Regions from separate parts of the Homo sapiens genome. Here region 2 is linked to region 1. Evidence: fine-mapped expression QTL. A gene starts in region 1. The other region holds a variant in brackets. All regions are shown on one strand. Distances are from middle to middle. Region 1 holds the start of ARID5A (AT-rich interaction domain 5A). Region 2 overlaps KANSL3 (KAT8 regulatory NSL complex subunit 3).

Region 1 (2,906 bases):
TTCCTGATGGCATCCCATCATAGTGTCTTCCACCACAGCCTTAGCTTTCCTGGAGGGGAAAGTGGCTTGTAAACTTGCCAAAGTGGGATGCATTGTTATAATTACCATTATGATTGTTCTGGGTGTCTATTACCAATTCTACAGGTGCTGGCTCTTACAAGCCAACCCATTATGAGGTAGACAGGGGATTTATCCTGCAGAGCCCACAGGGTCGTCTGCTCTAGACTGAGCCTGCAGACATCTTCCATCCCAGGGCCAAAGGGTAAGGGCCAGGGTTTCAGGTTCACCAAACTGCAGCCCTGGTCCCTTCGTTTAGTGTGAGGAGGGGCACCAGTATGATGAGTGGTTAGTAATGGGTGCAAAGCGGGTGGGGGGATGCCTGGGTATGAGGGCTCCTCTTCCTGGGTCTAGCTCTGGCTCCAACACCTACCAGCTGTGCTACTTGAGCTAATCTCTCAGACCTCAGTTTTACGCTATAAAATGAGGACAATGATGGTGTCAAGTGCATAGAGCTATTATGAGTATTAAAATTCATCAACAAAGATTTTTGTGTAGCTTCTATGTGCTAGGAACAGGGTTCCCATCCTAGCTAGCCACCTGCTGAGACTGAAACCCTGAGCCTCCATTTCTTCCTCTTTGGCCTGCACAGGTCCAGGTTGCTGCTATGGCTGGCTGGGCACCTCCTCCTGCCTCCATTCGCCCTAGGCCTCATTCCCACCTCCCACAGCCTGAACTCATGCCCCTTCTTTGGACTACTCAGCTTGTAGCTGCCACACTCTGTCTGCATTATGTGTGTGGACATTGACTATTACTGGCAGGCCTGGCCACAGAGCCTAGGCCAAGGATTTACTAGTTTGGTCCTTGTCTAGCTCACACTAACCACCTCTCCTTTTTTTTTTTTTTTTTTTTTTTTTTTTTTTTTTTGAGGCAGGGTCTCCGTCTATTGCCCAGGATCCAGGATAGAGTGCAGTGGTGTGATCAAAACACACTGCAGCCTCGACCTTCTGGGCTCAAGTGATCCTCCCGCCTCCGCCTCCCAAAGCAGGGATTCCAGGCGTGAGCCGCCGCTCCCGGCCTCACCTGGCCTTCTTTGTTGGGCTAGGTGGGGACTGGGAAATGCACAGGGCCACTTTCAAATCAAAGTCAGAAGCACTTTGCTCGCTCCACAGAGTCCTCAGTGCTCTGCTGAAAGCAAGGAGGCTTTTTCCAAGGCTCTAGTTTTGCCTCCAGGGAAACTGAGGCACAAGGCAGCAATGATTACTGAGGGTCCTGCCTCCGCTCCTCTAGGTGAGGAGCCTATTCCAGGGGCTCCAGTCTGAAAGCCTAGAGGCGAGGGGCGCGCACTACAATTCCCAGAGGTCCCCGGACTCAAGGGCGGTCCCCGCCCCCCGCCTTCTCCGCGCGACGAAGCCGGGCTTACCAATGGGAGCCCGGAGTGGGGCGAGCAGGGGCGGGACGGGGCGGGACTGCGGGGAGGTGGCCGGCGGGCCGCGCCGCGAGCCAGTATCTCAGAGAGCGCGGGGTCCGGACAGCCGCGCGCTGAGGGTCTCGGGGCGGGCGCCGCGGGACCTCTCCGGGCCATGGGTAAGCGGCTCTGCGGCGCGGCCCGGACAGGGGCTCGGCGGCCCTGCAGGGAGGTTCAAGGTGCCGGCGCCGGGTCCCCTCCAGCCCTCGTGGCAGTCGGTGCGCTGTGTGGGGCGGAGAGGGGCCCGGGGTGGGTTTCGGGGCGCGGGCCAAGGGGAGCGAGCCCGGCCCGCGGCTTCAGCGCTCCCCGGCCGGCGCGGAAGGGGTGAGGCTGGGCGTCCGCGCGAGCTTCGAGAAAAGGAAAGACAAAAAGTTTTGGCGGCCAGGGGCTTCCCGGGCGTTTATCTCGAAACTCTTTTCGCCGTCTCTTGCCTGAAATATGCCGAGCCCGGTACGGCTCTGTCGTCCCACTTCCTGCTGCGGTTTCCACCTCGAGCTGGGCTCAGCTAATTTGTTGTGACAGCTGTCGGCAGCCGCCCCTCCGCCCCGTGACATCCCGCAGGTTTCAGAACCGCGGCGCCGCCGGGCACAGACTCCGGGTCCAGAGCGCGCGGCCCTTTCCTCTGCGGCCGCCGTTTCCTGAAAGGGGCTGCGCGGGTGTGAAGAACTTGCTCAATGCGCTTTGTAGGATCCACTGTTCCTCTTTCGGCCGCGGGCTGCGCCGATGGTCCGGGGAGCCCGGCTTCTCGCCCCCTGCCCCTTCCTTCTCTTCCCTTTTCTCTTTTCCTCTCCTGTCTCTCCGCCCACCCGCCGCAGCCCCACAGGAGAGGGGTCGCTTCCCTGGTTGCTCTCCTCTCCTGTCCCTTGTGTGTCCCCTTGTCTTCCCTCGGTCTGCAGAAGGGACGGGGTGGCGGCTGGGGAGCGTCAGGGGAAGAGGGCAAGAGCGTGGGCTACGAGCTTGCAGGCGATGCCCGGCTTCGCGCTCGGCGGGAGCTGCGGGCCAACCCGGGCCCGCGCTCCGTCCCTCCGCGGTGTCTAGGGGTCGCCCGGGCTGGGGTCGCGTCACCCTCCGCCCAGCGCCGGCGTGGTGGGGCTTGCGCGGTGCAGGACCCCCGAGGGCCCAGGGGGTCCCAAGGCGCTGCGGGTCCAGTGTCCCTTTGTTTGCAGAGTCTTGGGCCAGTAAGGAGTGCTCCGCGGGCCCCAGGGGAGGACAACAGGTGCCTCTTGCCCCACCCGGGCTCCTCTGGTGGGAGCCCACACGCACGGTGGCGTCACTGCGCCTACAGGCAACGCTAGAGCACAGGAGGGGTGGGAGGTCGGGGCTCGAGGGCTTCACCCCGCAGCAGAGCTCAGAGCCCAATCCAGGCCTTAGGGACCCGCCTGGGGCCTAGAACTTGGTGTGGCAGAGGTAGAAAGGGCCTCCGATAATCTGCTTCTACAGT
Region 2 (2,906 bases), 90 kb after region 1:
TATTTATGAAATATCAACAGCATTTCCAAAATTATCCTGTTTTTATTACATAATGATGCTTTCCCTATTTGTTTTTCTTACTCTGTATTAATTCTGCAATCCAAAATTATGGGAGTAAGGAAAATGATGTGAATGCAAGATGCAGAGGGTTAGAAAGCTATTTAGAAATTATTACCATACACCAATGACAGCTGAAATTAAATTTTAAAACCACAACGTTGAGAGTCCAAAATCCCAGAAAAAGTTCTTAGGATTGCTGCTGGATATATAACAAAGTGACTCCAAGAATTGAAACATGATCTCTATATTTTGTCAGCTTCGTGGGAGGCTAGAAAATTAAGTGGGCAGAAAAAAAATGATCTAAACCAAGATTAAGATAAAGAGCATGCAAGAGATATAATTAGCAAAAATTTTAAAAACAGGAGACAGAATTTTAAATACAAGCCTAAACAGTCAAATAGCTGATGGGAACTGTGGTGAGCCAACTGGCACTCCCCACCCCGTGCCCCACCCGCCTATTCAATTTTCATGAGGGCAAAAATGTCTTTTCTTCCTTTCTTAGATGAGATCAGAAAATCTTTTGTTCTCCCTGCTCTGACTGAACCTGAATGATATGCTGACCTCTGGCTCATTCTATTCAAAGCAGCCAAAATATAACATTGGTCCTGAAAATATCTGGTATTTTCAAAGGTAATCATTATTTTGGATACTGTTTCAAAGAAGACTAATTAATTCAACATTAAAATATCTAAAGGATTTTTTTTTAACCAGAAGTCAAACAAGGAGACACAAAGTACATCAGATAAACTCAACAGTCATACTTTCCTTTTTCAGATTATAAAATTCTTTGTCTAAACACTAGAAGAAGGGAAGGAATGAAGGAAGGGGAAATAAAGAGGGTGGGGGAGGGGAAGGAGGGACGATAACTCAAAGACCTTGGACTTAAAATTTCAAACATCCAACCTAAGATTTATACAGATACATACAATATTGAATATAAAACTAAAGAAGGCTCAGAAAAGGAAAATGGGGTGTTTTTGGCTGGAATTCAGAAGTTCTGATTTCTAAGATAAGAAAGCCTGCTTTTGGATACTACTACATTCTTTCACTAAAATGTTGGAAATGTCCTAAAATCCATTTGAGCAATTCTGAGAAGTATCATGTGTCAGGAAAATTTTATTAAAT[G/A]TCTTTCAAAAGCTATGCAACTAATGAAACTTCACATTTGACAAACATCTGGAGGGAAAAAAAAGCTGGCCCAACATCTTCAGGACTACATCACTATGCCAGCAAATAGAAATCATTTTCAAAGGTCCTCTAAGTCACATGCCATGGCACGCAGACACAAGAACATGACCCAGGAAGCTCACTTTTTCTATAAGAGGCCGGACAGAAAATGTTTTAGGGTTTCCAGGCCATATGGCTTCTGCCACTATTCAATTTTGTGGCTTTACTGCAAAAGCAGCCATGGATAATACCTAATGAATATGACTGTATCTCAATAAAAGCTTATGCACACCGAAATTTTAATTTCATGTGTCATGAAACAGTATTAATTTTTTTGCAACTATTTAAAAATGTAAAAATCATTCCACACAAAAACAAGCAATGGGCCAAATTTAAATCAGCCCACTGTCATAGTTAGACAACCACTAATGCAGACAATTAAATAAGGTAGTAATATTTAAACCATTTCACAAAATATCAGCCATTAATAAAGAAAGCCAGAGTCAGGGGCAGGGAAGGGAGGAACATGCTTCTTTTTTTTTTTTGAGACGGAGTCTTGCTCTGTTGCCCGGGCTGGAGTGCAGTGGCACGATCTCGGCTCACTGCAACCTCTGCCTTCCAGGTTCAAGAGATTCTCCTGCCTCAGCCTCCCGAGTAGCTGAGATTACAGGCGTTTGCCACCACACCAGCTAATTTTTACTATTTTTAGTAGAGACGGGGTTTCACTATGTTGGTCAGGCTGGTCTCAAACTCCTCACCTCAAATTATCTTCCCGCCTCAGCCTCCCAAAGTGCTGGGATTACAGGCGAGAGCTACTGCGCCTAGCCTATATACACAAAGCTATCTGAAGACAGTTTCTACTGAAATCATTCAAGAGAGAGGAAAAAAGCTCTTAACAAGGAAATTAAGTTTCTGCCTCCACAGACAAAGAGCAATCAGTAAACTCTCCGGGAAAGAACTCCAGAGTTCTAGGGAGCCGACCTACACCGTTCATGGAGCTCTTGATGTGGCAAACTAATTTTACATGACTTTATATAAGAAGAAAGGAAGCAGCAATTTAACAATCAAGTCAGGGAAAGAATGGCAACACGATGATTATAATCAGAGCAGAAGGAACTGCAAGCTCCAAACAGGCTACAGATTCAGGGACAGGGTCATAAAATGGTGGTATCTGAAACTGAAACTAATAAGTTATCATAAATAATAAAATCGGCTATGTACAAAAGTTACCTACCAAAAGAGATGGTGTGTAAGCCTGCTGCCAATGAGAGAAGGCCTCCAAAATCTCATCAGACACTAAGAAAACAAATAATCTGATAAATTGAGCTTTAATGGATTACATCAATCTGTGGCAATGTGGCAATGTCATAACAGAAGGGTGGTGGTCCACAAGGAGACTGGAGAAAGATAAGCCAAAGACAAGAATCTGTCAGTGTTTCTCTAAAGGACAGGCAGGAGAAGGTGCACACTGGCCTATTCCGTGGACTCATCTTGCCTAGAGGAAAGATGTGTACATCCAGCTATTCTGCTGTGCCTCCTGTGTAGACTCTCCACTCATCTATTCACTTCTGAAATAAAATGGTTTTCCAGACTTTCCTGCTGAGAACAGACACTCTGGCCAGGCCACCCCAGTGTCTCTTATGCTTTGCAGTTATATCTCTCCTTATAAATTAAGAAACTCA

The links. PIP is the estimated chance that this variant, and not a neighbour inherited with it, causes the effect. A credible set is the group of variants that fine-mapping cannot tell apart.
Region 2: its variant is the best candidate, but not a certain one, in a credible set for the expression of ARID5A in monocytes (TOPMed, PIP 0.90).

The regions. Positions count from the first base shown.
Region 1 is chr2:96,535,247-96,538,152 of GRCh38, forward strand. It overlaps ARID5A (AT-rich interaction domain 5A), which reads left to right and starts at 1,506. Exons shown (of 7, transcript NM_212481.3): 1 at 1,506-1,584. The coding sequence starts at 1,581. RefSeq lists silencers at 1,425-1,784, 2,465-2,674.
Region 2 is chr2:96,625,464-96,628,369 of GRCh38, forward strand. The region is part of intron 3 of KANSL3 (KAT8 regulatory NSL complex subunit 3); the gene reads right to left. Among named protein-coding and RNA genes, the nearest start is that of KANSL3, 11 kb to the right of the region's middle. The variant G/A (reference allele first, on the strand shown) is at 1,186.